Linked DNA regions of Homo sapiens. The protein of the gene in region 2 interacts with the protein of the main gene of each other region in a pairwise test. Each region holds a gene or a part of one and is shown on either strand. Other genes may lie near its edges.

The links. The genes of interacting proteins can lie anywhere in the genome.
Region 1: the proteins of NFKBID (region 2) and PATZ1 interact in binary tests that used the Homo sapiens proteins (3 or more experiments, as listed by UniProt).

What each region holds. Positions count from the first base shown.
Region 1 is NC_000022.11:31,325,278-31,329,355, forward strand, and holds the end of PATZ1 (POZ-, AT hook-, and zinc finger-containing protein 1 isoform long C), read right to left. Parts: intron 3,648-4,078; coding exon 3,510-3,647; intron 2,033-3,509; coding exon 1,614-2,032; 3' UTR 527-1,613; downstream 1-526. UniProt on the Homo sapiens protein: Transcriptional regulator that plays a role in many biological processes such as embryogenesis, senescence, T-cell development or neurogenesis. Interacts with the TP53 protein to control genes that are important in proliferation and in the DNA-damage response.
Region 2 is NC_000019.10:35,890,521-35,897,555, reverse strand, and holds part of NFKBID (NF-kappa-B inhibitor delta), read left to right. Parts: intron 1-452; coding exon of another isoform or gene 453-497; coding exon 498-643; intron 644-724; coding exon 725-830; intron 831-1,017; coding exon 1,018-1,164; intron 1,165-1,286; coding exon 1,287-1,338; intron 1,339-1,427; coding exon 1,428-1,576; intron 1,577-4,388; coding exon of another isoform or gene 4,389-4,496; exon of another isoform or gene 4,497-4,853; intron 4,854-7,035. UniProt on the Homo sapiens protein: Regulates the expression of IL-2, IL-6, and other cytokines through regulation on NF-kappa-B activity. Functions in the regulation of inflammatory responses.

The DNA of each region.
Region 1 (4,078 bases), on a different chromosome or scaffold from region 2:
TTAGAGCCCCTTGGCCATGAGGAGTCCCTGCCCACATCCCTCCTCAGGTGCTAGCTGGGTAGGCTGTGTCAGATCCCCTCTATAAGCCTTCCCTCCCAGAGCCCCAACCCCACTTCACACCTCCCTGGTCCACCCTACTCACCCTCCTGCTGTCACTGTCCCCTCACCTTGCCCAGTTCTTCTCCTTGTATTTCTCATTATCTGAACTCATATTTAAGTTGTCTGTCTATCCCATTAAGCCTCACAGTGGTGTCTTGTTCACCACCATATCTCAAGAGCATGAAACCATGCCTGGCACACAAGCAGTGAAGACAAGCAGTGGATATTTGTTGAACACATGGGTGAATTCTGGCATTCTAAGTCTTCAGTGGGACCATCTACCTGTCAATCCCAGTGGAACTGGTGCAATGAAGTGGAAAAGGGGTCTCCTGGGATCCCACTCCCACCCCAGGTGCTGGGGTATGGACTGCCCACCTCTGGGTCCCAAAGACCCCCACAGCTGAAAAACTGGACTCAAGGGAGCAGATAGAGTAATGTACTAACATTTTTAATACAGTCTGATCAGATCAATTCACATCACAAGGTCAACCTGGGCTTGCTCACATGTGACACAACTGAGGTACACAATGTCCCTACCTGCCGGCTGTCCCACCTTCCTGGTTCCCAACAGCATTGAAACCCCCTACTTCCCTGACCAGACTGGCATTTTTTAAAATTTTGCATAAAACTATTTCTTCCATAGACTTCAAACAATCAACTAGCCAAGTTAATTATGGTACATCTAAACAAAGTTTAATACTAACCCTAATGTGTGACTGCGGTTTACAAAGAGCTCTGTATCACCTGGGATAGCTTTCAGTAGCAATTCACTACAACTGGTCCTAAAAAATAATAACAATAATAATAATAATTAGAGAATTAAAACCCAACAGCATGTTGAATGGTTAAAATCACGTAAGAACTGAAATTTGGGGTGGGGGTGTCCTCAACAGCTGAGCTTGTCCTAGCAGTGAAAATGCTCGCCTCCAAGCAGGGCTCAGAAAGGTCTGGAGCCCTCCAGGCAGAGGGCTGAGCTCAGGGGGCTCTTGGAGGACACTCACCCCATGGTCCATGGGATGCTTCTGGCTTCCTTAAAAACAGTTGGGCATCCGCATTGTATAAGTAGGTGGAGACCCTAGTGTGGTTCTTTTGAAGGATATGGGAAGGGAGGATGACGAACTAGAGAAGTGGGAGGGGACCAAAATCACTGAGGTCCCAGAATATCATAGATTTGGGTATAGGATTGGGGTCACTAAGAATTGAGCACCAGGAATTCCAGCTTCTTCCCATTAAAGAAACTGGGACTGGTTTTGCCTTGGAGGCCTATGTAGTGTTTTCTGCCCCTGTCCCATACCAAGTCTCATTGATATTTCTGCAGAATATCAGATGAAAATCTATTTCTAAAGACCATTGGGAGAATGGGTGGTGGAGAAGGAGTTGGAGTGGGGTTGGGGGGCAGTTAAAAATGAATAAAAATCTCTCAGCTACAGAACCCAAACATCACTTCCCTCCGCATTCACAGCATTTCCCAGCAGTCCCCAGATGGTTGTTTCCGTGGGGACACAGCAGCTGCCTCATTTCCCTTCAGGCCCCATGGGCTGCTGGTCAACCTCAGGATCTACTAAAGATGACGCAAATGCCGACTGAACAATCTGAAACCCAAAGGACTCGAGGAGAGACATGTTCTGCTGAGGAGAGAAAGGTGAGCCAAGGGCAGGGCCCAGGTCCCCCAGGGGGCCCCCGAGAGCCCGGACATGCACCTTCTGGATGTGTTTGTTCAAGTAGGACTTAGAGCGGAAGAAGCTCCCACATTCAGGGCATGGGTACTTCTTCTCCCCATCAGACTCCATTTTGTTTTTGGGGACTGCCATGTCGCAGGAGAAAGAGCCATTGGCACTCTGCTTCTCTGGCGTCTTCAGGTCGCTGGCATCTGAGAGGTCACCATAGGAGTCAGAGCTCTCAATCGGATCCTGATGTGAGCATTTCTGGCCTTCTACGAAAAAACAAAATATAGGAGAGCGATGAGGCCAGGCTCTGGAGATGCCCCCTCCTGGAGGGGTCATGAGGGGCCAGCTCACAGACCTGTGGAGGGCAGCCATTGGCCAGCCACTGCCCTGGCAGAACCCACGGAGGGTCAGCTGGTCAGTCTGGGAGCCTGGAGTGCCTACAGGGGTGAAACGGCAGGGCCCTAGGGCTGCCAGCCTCCCTTGCTGTGGACTCTTCATGCAGCTGCACATGTACTGCTCACCGTCATCTCAGCCTGCTTCAAGGAAGGGATACAGAGAGGGCAACTCTGCTACAGCTGCCCAGAACAACTCAAAGACCCCCAACTCCTAGGCGCTCTTTTGGGTGCCTCTGAGGGTAAAATTGGTATTCTGATGATGCCGAGCCAGTGTAATAGTAGCCTCGCCTCCTGCACCAGACTAGCTGCACCCTAGCAAGACAGGCAGAACCAGAGCCATTAGGTCCTCAACCTGGGTAGACCCCATCAATGGCTCAGACAGAAGCCAATCCTTTTCCTAATGCTGCAAACATAGCCCTGTCCTTACCGCCTTCCTTCTGCCAAAACCTTTTCAGGGCCAAGCAGCCCAAGCACAGAGATTGAAAGCAACTCTGTACTACTCAGTCGGCTGGGTGTCCCCACCCTAGGCCCCAGACAAGCTGGGCCAAGAGACAACCCTGGCTGCTCTGCCTTGCCCGGCCCACACTGGAGTCCTCCACCAATCAGCAGCTTCCTGCCTGGGTCCAGAGAGCCATGCCGGGAAGGGAGGTCTGTGATGGGAGCATGGAGCATGCCATCTCTGCTGTTTCTACCATCTGCCAAGCCCCTGGCCTCATCCCCAAGGCAACGACAACGTGACATACCACAAAACAACCTGAATCAACAAGTGAAGGTGGGCCTGGGGAGCTTTCTGCAAACCAACTCCCAAGTCAGAGGAGTCAGATAGCTCATTATTGCCATGCATCTCACAACCATAGCCAGAGGCTCTCCAGAAAGGGCCACTCACAGTAACCAACCACTCCTACTGTGAGAGAAGCCAGACATTGGCTCCCACCGGCCCACTGGGTCAAAAGAGGAGAAAGCATTCAGCCGCAGCTCCACACCATCCTAAAGGGCAGCAGGCAGTGACAGGCCCATAGTGACTCATCATGCAGGGCTCTTCTTCTGCCCAGGGCCCGGGGCATCCCTGCAGGGCTCCAGACAGTGGGGGCTGGCCAGGAGGAAAGGAGGAGGGCTGGGGAAGAGGAGGCGGAGGCTGGATCTCGGCAGTGCCCTAAAGCCTCACTCACTGCCCTGGAGTGAGATACCCACTGTGACTTTTGTCCTGGAGGCCACTGCCACTCAGATCTCTGAGTCTCCTCAAGGCAGCCAGAAAGCCGGCAGCCTTCCCGCCTCCCCACGCCCAGCCCAGCGCCCCCACAACACAGTCTGCGCAGAGAAGCAAAGTGCAGAGCAAGGGGTCGCTTGCCTTTGTTGCCATAGGTCCTGGCGCAGTGGAACGCTGCTCCCCCATTCAGGATGGGCTCCTGGTGCCTGGAGACCTGGGGAAGGGGAACACCGTGGTGGGTTTTAACATGGACCTTTAAGTAGGAGGCAGAGGAGAAACCTAAACAAGACAAAAGGAGATGAGATCCCGCGGCCAGCAAGAGATACCTCTCTCCTTCCCCCAACTCCTCTCCTCTGGCCGCTCTGGCTAGCATTCCCAGGTCAGCTGCACCTAGAAGGGGCCCCCTCCTGGCTCAAAAATGGCTGCAACCACATGAGCCATGTGACTCAGGATGGAGGGTGGCACTGTCCACAAATCGGCTTCTCTGCAGAGCCCACTCTGCAAGGCTGCGGTGAGGGGCTGAGGCTGGCTGCCTGGTGGGATGGCCTGAGATCCTGCTCCTGCTAGGGCCAGAGGCCAACTGCCTCTAGGGTTGCTTGGTGCCTCAGTAACAGGTGGTTTGAGTGGATGTCTCCTGCAGGAACCATGACTAGAAATGTGGTTAGACAAGAATTTGAGGCTCCAGGGAAGCCACAGGATTCTAGCCAGCA
Region 2 (7,035 bases):
TTCCCTTTTCCAGGCCGGGCGTGGTGGCTCACACCTGTAATCCCAGCACTTTGGGAGGCTGAGGCAGGCGGATCACTTGAGGTCAGGCGTTTGAGACCAGCTTGGCCAACATGGTGAAACCAAAAATAAAAAAATTAGCTGGGTGTAGTGGCGCACGCCTGTAATCCTAGCTACTCGGGAGGCTGAGGCAGGGGAATTGCTTGAACCCAGGAGGTAGAGATTGCAGTGAGTAGAGATTGCACTGCTGCACTCCAGCCTGGGTGACAGAGCAAGACTCTGTCACCGAAAAAAAAAAATACCCTTTTCCAGGTGGGCAAAACTGAGGCCTAAAGGTCCAAGGTCACTTGGCATAGATGGGATACCCAGGGGCTCTGCATGCAGATGTGTGTGTGGTGGCTTGGGATGGAGGAATTCTCAGCTGACTGGGTCTCCCCACCACCTGCACCCTCCAGGACCCCCCAGACACCCAGTTCTATGTAGGATCTTCTCTGCCACAGGCTGGACCCTGGAGAGTTTCTGCACCCCCTTCAGGACCCCCACAGTTCCCCGCTGTGGTCCCTGGACCATCGCTGGAGGTGGCCCGAGCTCACATGCTGGCTTTGGGGCCACAGCAGCTGCTGGCCCAGGATGAGGAGGGGGACACGTGAGTATAAGGGATAGGGTTGTCTGCAGACTCTTGGCTTGGTGGGGGCTGTTCTCACGGCTGTCCCCCACCTGTCCTCAGGCTCCTTCACCTGTTTGCGGCTCGGGGGCTGCGCTGGGCGGCATATGCTGCGGCTGAGGTGCTCCAGGTGTACCGGCGTCTTGACATTCGTGAGCATAAGGGCAAGGTGAGGCTTGGGGCCTGAACTCTCCTGGGTTCAGGGGAGGAAGGAGCCTGGGGCCTGGACCCCTGGATCCTAGAGAAGAGGGGAATGGGGGGTGAGCTCCTGGGGCTGAGGGGGGATGGGGCTGGGAGCCTGGTTTTCTGACGGGAGGGAACCAGGAGCCCAACCTGACTTCTCCTGTGGCCTGCAGACCCCTCTCCTGGTGGCGGCTGCTGCCAACCAGCCCCTGATTGTGGAGGATCTGTTGAACCTGGGAGCAGAGCCCAATGCCGCTGACCATCAGGGACGTTCGGTCTTGCACGTGGCCGCTACCTACGGGCTCCCAGGAGTTCTCTTGGTATGGCCAGCTGGCAGGCAGGGGTTTGTCTGGGGGGTAGACTGGTTGCCCAGATTTTGGCTTCCAGGGCCAGGAGGCCAGGGGATACCCTTACCCAGCAGTCTGCCTTCTCTTCCTCCCAGGCTGTGCTTAACTCTGGGGTCCAGGTTGACCTGGAAGCCAGAGACTTCGAGGGTAAGTTGGGTGTGGGCAGGGCTGGTGTGGTTGGTGTGGCTGGGCGAGGTGGGTGCAGATGCGGGTCCCTCACTGTCTCCATTCTGCAGGCCTCACCCCGCTCCACACGGCCATCCTGGCCCTTAACGTTGCTATGCGCCCTTCCGACCTCTGTCCCCGGGTGCTGAGCACACAGGCCCGAGACAGGCTGGATTGTGTCCACATGTTGCTGCAAATGGGTGCTAATCACACCAGCCAGGTGAGCGGGGATGTGGGCGGTCAGACCCTGGGAGATTGTGTGGAATGGGGCCACTTGGATGTCCGGGAGCTCCAGGCAAATGCTGACTTTGCCTCTTCCTTGCTGCGTGCCCTTGAACATGTTACTTCACTTCTCTGTGCCTTAGGGGTTTTTTGTTTGTTTCTTTGTTTGTTTTGAGATGGAGTTTTGCTCTTGTTGCCCTGGCTGGAGTGCAATGGTGTGATCTTGGCTCACCGCAACCTCTGCATCCCGGGTTCAAGTGATTCTCCTGCCTCAGCCTCCTGAGTAGCTGGGATTACAGGCATGAGTCACCACGCCTGGCTAATTTTTTTGTATTTTTAGTAGAGACAGGCTTTCTCCACATTGGTCTTGCTGGTCTCGAACTCCCGACCTCAGGTGATCCACCTGCCTTGGCCTCCCAAAGTGCTGTGATTACAGGCGTGAGCCACCGCGCCCAGCAGGGTTTTTTTGTTTGTTTGTTTTTTTGTTTTTGAGACAGGGTCTCACTCTGTCGCCCAGGCTAGAGTGCAGTGGTGCAATCTCATCTCATGGCAAACTCTGCCTCCCAGGTTCAAGTGATTCTCCTGTCTTAGCCTCCTGAGTAGCTGGGACTATAGGCGCACGCCACCATGCCTGGCTATTTTTTTTTTTTTTTTTTTGTATTTTAGTAGAAGTGGGCTTTCATTGTGTTGGCCAGGCTGGTCTCAAACTCCTGACCTCAAATGATCCTCCCACCTTGGCCTCCCAAAGTGCTGCGATTACAGGCGTGAGCCACTGTGCCTGGCCCCTAGTTGTTAACTGGGAATAATATTACTGACCTTAGGGTATGTTATCAAGCACTTACTATTCATTCATCAAGCACTGAGTTTCATAGATTAGCTTATTGAAACCTCACAAACACCCTTTGACATGTGTACTCTATTTTCTCTATTTTACTGAAAAGGAAACAGGCATGGGAAATCAAAAATCTTTTTTTTTTTCTTTTTGAGATGGAGTTTTGCTCTTGTTGCCCAGGCTGGAGTGCAATGGTGTGATCTCGGCTCACCACAACCTCCGCCTCCTGGGTTCAAGCGATTCTCCTGCCTCAGCCTCCCGAGTAACTGGGATTACAGGTTCCCACCACCACGTCCAGCTAATTTTGTATTTTTAGTAGAGACAGGGTTTCTCCATGTTGGTCAGGCTGGTCTCGAACTCCCGACCTCAGGTGATCTTCCTGCCTCGGCTTCCCAAAATGCTGGGATTGCAAGCGTGAGCCACTGCACCTGGCCTCAAAAATCTCTTTGAGACAGGGTCTCACTCTGTCACTCAGGCTGGAGTGCAGTGGCATGATCACAGCTTATTGCAGCCTTGACCTTGTGCACTTAAGTGATCCTCCCACCTCAGCCTCCCAAGTAGCTGTGATCACAGGCATGCACCACCATGCGTGGCAACTTTTTTGTAAGGTGGGGTCTAACTATGTTGGCCAGGTTGGTCTCAAACTCCTGAGCTCAAGCAATCCTTCCACCTCTGCCTCTGAAAGTGCTGGGATTACAGTTGTGAGCCACTGCACCCAGCCTGAAAAATCTTATAGCTTGTGACTGTCAGAGAGAGAATTAGAACCCAGGTAGTCTGACTTTAGAACCTAGCTTTTAATTATGTTCTGTTCCTTTCCTGTGACAGTAGCTCCTTCATAGGCTGGCTGAGAGAATTAAACATCCACAAAAAATGTTTATTTATTTATTGAGATGGAATCTCACTCTGTCACCCAGGCTGGAGTGCAGTGGCATGATCTCGGCTTACTGCAACCTCTGCCTCCCGGGTTCAAGCCATGCTCCTGCCTCAGCCTCCTGAGTAACTGGGACTACAGGCATGCACCACCACGCTTGGCTAATTTTTTTGTATTTTTAATGGAGACGGGGTTTCCCTATGTTGGCCAGGCTGTTCTCTCAAACTCCTGACCTCAGGTGAGCCGCCCGCCTTGGCCTCCCAAAGTGCTGGGATTACAGGCATAAGCCACTGCGCCCAGCCGAAAAATGTTTTTTTAGTTAAAGAATGTTGAACACCAATAAAATATAGAAAATAGTGGAATGAACTCCATATGTCCAACATCAATAACCAGCCACTCATGGCCAGTCCTGCCCCATCCACTCTCTCACTTTCAAGTGATTTTTTTTTTTTTTTTGAGATGGCTCTCGCTCTGTCACCCAGGCTGGAGTGCAGTGGTGCGATCTCGGCTCACTGTAAGCTCCGCCTCCCGGGTTCACACCATTCTCCTGCCTCAGCCTCCTGAGTAGCTGGGACTATAGGCACCCGCCACCACGCCCGGCTAAATTTTTGCATTTTTAGTAGAGACGCAGTTTCACCGTGTTAGCCAGGATGGTCTCGATCTCCTGACCTCGTGATCCACCCGCCTCGGCCTCCCAAAGTGCTGGGATTACAGGCGTGAGCCACTGTGCGTGGCCTCTCACTTTCATGTGATTTTTAAGCAAATTCCAACATGTATTTTTTTCAAAAATATTTGTGTATCTTTAAAGAATAATGGTGTTTAGCAGAATTAGCTAGATGGTGGGGATGGACTGTAAGAAGGACGGGCATGACTGAGTAGAGACAAGATAAGGCATTATTAGCGGGGTTAGGAAATGAATGATGGTAATCTAGGCTCTTAATGGTTGCAAAGTAGAGCTAAGTGATCATTTGGGCAATACAGAGAAGGTGAAATTGATACTTTGGTAATTCATTCGTTTCTTCACTCAGAATTTTGGACACATATGATGTAGCTACCAGTGTGCTAGTGATGGGGCATAAAGTTGCTTTTTGTTTGTTTGTTTTTTAGAGACAGAGTCTGGCTTTGTCACCCAGGCTGGAGTGCTGTGGTGCGATCACGAATCACTGCAGCCTCGACTTCCTGACCTCAAACATTCCTTCCACCTCAGCCTCCTAAGTAGCTGGGACTACAGGCATGAGCCACCTCACCCGGCTAATTGTTTTATATTTTTTGTAGAGAGGGGGGGTCTCACTATGTTGCCCAGGCTGGTCTCGAACTCCTGGGCCCAAGTGATCCCCCAGCCTTGGCCTCCCAAGTGCTGGGATTACAGGCGTGAGCTGCTGTGCCCAGCTACCTATAATGTTTTAATAAGAAAAGACCACTTTCTTGTACTTTTAGACATTAAAATTTAATGGAAAAGAGAGGAGATGATAAGTAAACAAAGAACTGAACATAATTACAAATTGGGATGAGAGCTGCCTTGGGAATGTAGAAGGAGCTCTTAGACAATAAAAAGATTGGCTTTATATTGGATGCGGGGCTCACAATGAAGGTCATTCTGAGGAAATTACATTTAAGTTGAGCAAGAAATGATGAAGAGGAAGAATTAACTGTGTGGTAGGGTTCTGGGAGAACTCAGAAATCAGGGAGTATTTCTCTGAAAAAAGGACAAATAATTTTTTTTTTTTTTTTGAGATGGAGTCTCGCTCTGTCGCCCAGGTTGGAGTGCAGTGGCACAGTCTTGGTTCACTGCAACCTCCCAGGTTCAAGTGATTCTCCTGCCTCAGCCTCCCGAGTAGCTGGGACTATAGGCATGTGCTATCACACCCCACTAATTTTTGTATTTTTAGTAATAATAATAAGTTTTTTAAAAATAAGAAAGATGGCTGGGTGCGGTGGCTCATGCCTGTAATCCAAGCACTTTGGGAGGCTCAGGTGGGCGGACTGCTCGAGCTCAGGAATTCGAGACCAACCTGGGCAACATAGGGAGACCCCATCTCTAAAAAAAATACAAAAATTAGCTGGGCTTGATGGCACATGCCTGTGGTCCCAGGTACTCAGGAGGCTGAGGTGGGAGGATCACCTGAACCTGGGGAGGTCAAGGCTGCAGTGAGCCATGATTTTGCCACCACACTCCAGCCTGGGTGACAGAGCAAGACCCTGTCTCTCAACAACAACAACAACAATAATAAAAGATAAGAACTCTTTCCCTGTAATCCCAGTGCTTGGGGAGGCTAAGGTGGGAGGATCACTCGAGCCCAGTAGGTTGAGGCTACAGTGAGCCTTGGTCACACCACTGCACTCCAGCCTGGGCAACAGAGCGAGACCCTGTCTCAAAAAACAAACAAAAAACATAGCTTTTTTTTTTTGAGACGGAGTCTCACTCTGTTGCCCAGGCTGGATTGCAATGGTGTGATTTTGGCTCACTGCAACCTCTGCCTCCCGGGTTCAAGCTATTCCTGTGTCTCAGCCTCCCAAGTAGCTGGGATTATAGGCATGTGCCACCACGCCTGGCTAATTTTTGTATTTTTAGTAGAGACGGTTTCACCATGTTGGCCAGGCTGGTCTCGAACTCTTGACCTCAAGTGATCCGCCCTCCTTGGCCTCCCAAAGTGCTGGGATTACAGGCATGAGCCCCTGTGCCCTTCGAAAAAAAAGAACTTTTTAAACCTCAGTATCATTGCTCTGTCTTTAAAAAATTAAAGATTTTCTTGTAATACCAAATATCCTGGCTGTATTCAAATTTCCTTTTGGCTGTAAAATGATAATTTTTTTCATTAAAAAAAATCAAGATCCAAATAAGCACACATATTATGATGTTACGTCTTTTCAAATCACTCTTAATCTAGAGCTTTGGTTTTGTCTTCATCATTTTTTGGACGAGCAAACTAGGTGGTTTTGCCCTGTTATCAGCACATAAAATGTTTAACATTCATTATCGTTACAAACTCCTTAAAGACACATAAAAAGGTTTCATTTTAGAAAATGTCTTTTATTTTCCCCCAAATATGATGGGAACAGCTCAATATTGTGGTGCAGTATTGCAATATTAGCTAGTCCACTGATTAATGCTGCCAACTCCTGTGCTTGTAGATAAAGTACAGTCTGTGTGGGTCGGGATGCAATTTAATGTGTTGAATGGAGGGCAGGTAGCCAAGGCAGTTGCTTTGAAGAACTGGAAAAGGAGTCTCTTTCTCAGACACTGGTGGGAAAATTGTCATGAGAAATGTACAGTTCTGGAAGGTGTATGGTGTGAATGGTACACCCTGAGACGTGGTGTTGTGCGGTGCACAAGACATACAACTGAATAAGGCACTCTTGGTGGGGCTCGCAGAAGAGGGCCAGCATCTTATTTATTTATTTATTAATTTTGAGATAGAGTGTCACTCTGTCACCCATGCTGGAGTGCAGTGGTGTGGTCATGGCCCACTGCAGCCGTGAACTCCTAGGCTCAAATGAACCTCCTGCCTCAGCCTCCCAAGCAGCTGGGACTACAGGTGCGCACCACCACGCCTGGCTAATTTTTCTATTTTTTGTAGAGATGAGGTCTTGCTGTGTTGTCCAGGCTGGTCTGCAGCTCCTGGCCTCAAGTGATCCTCCTTCTTCAGCTTCCCAAAGTGCTAGGATTACAGGCGTGAACCACCGCACTCCGCCAAGGGTCAGGGTCTTTAAAGACTCCTGGATTCTGTGGGAGGGCACCTAGGTGTGAGGCTGG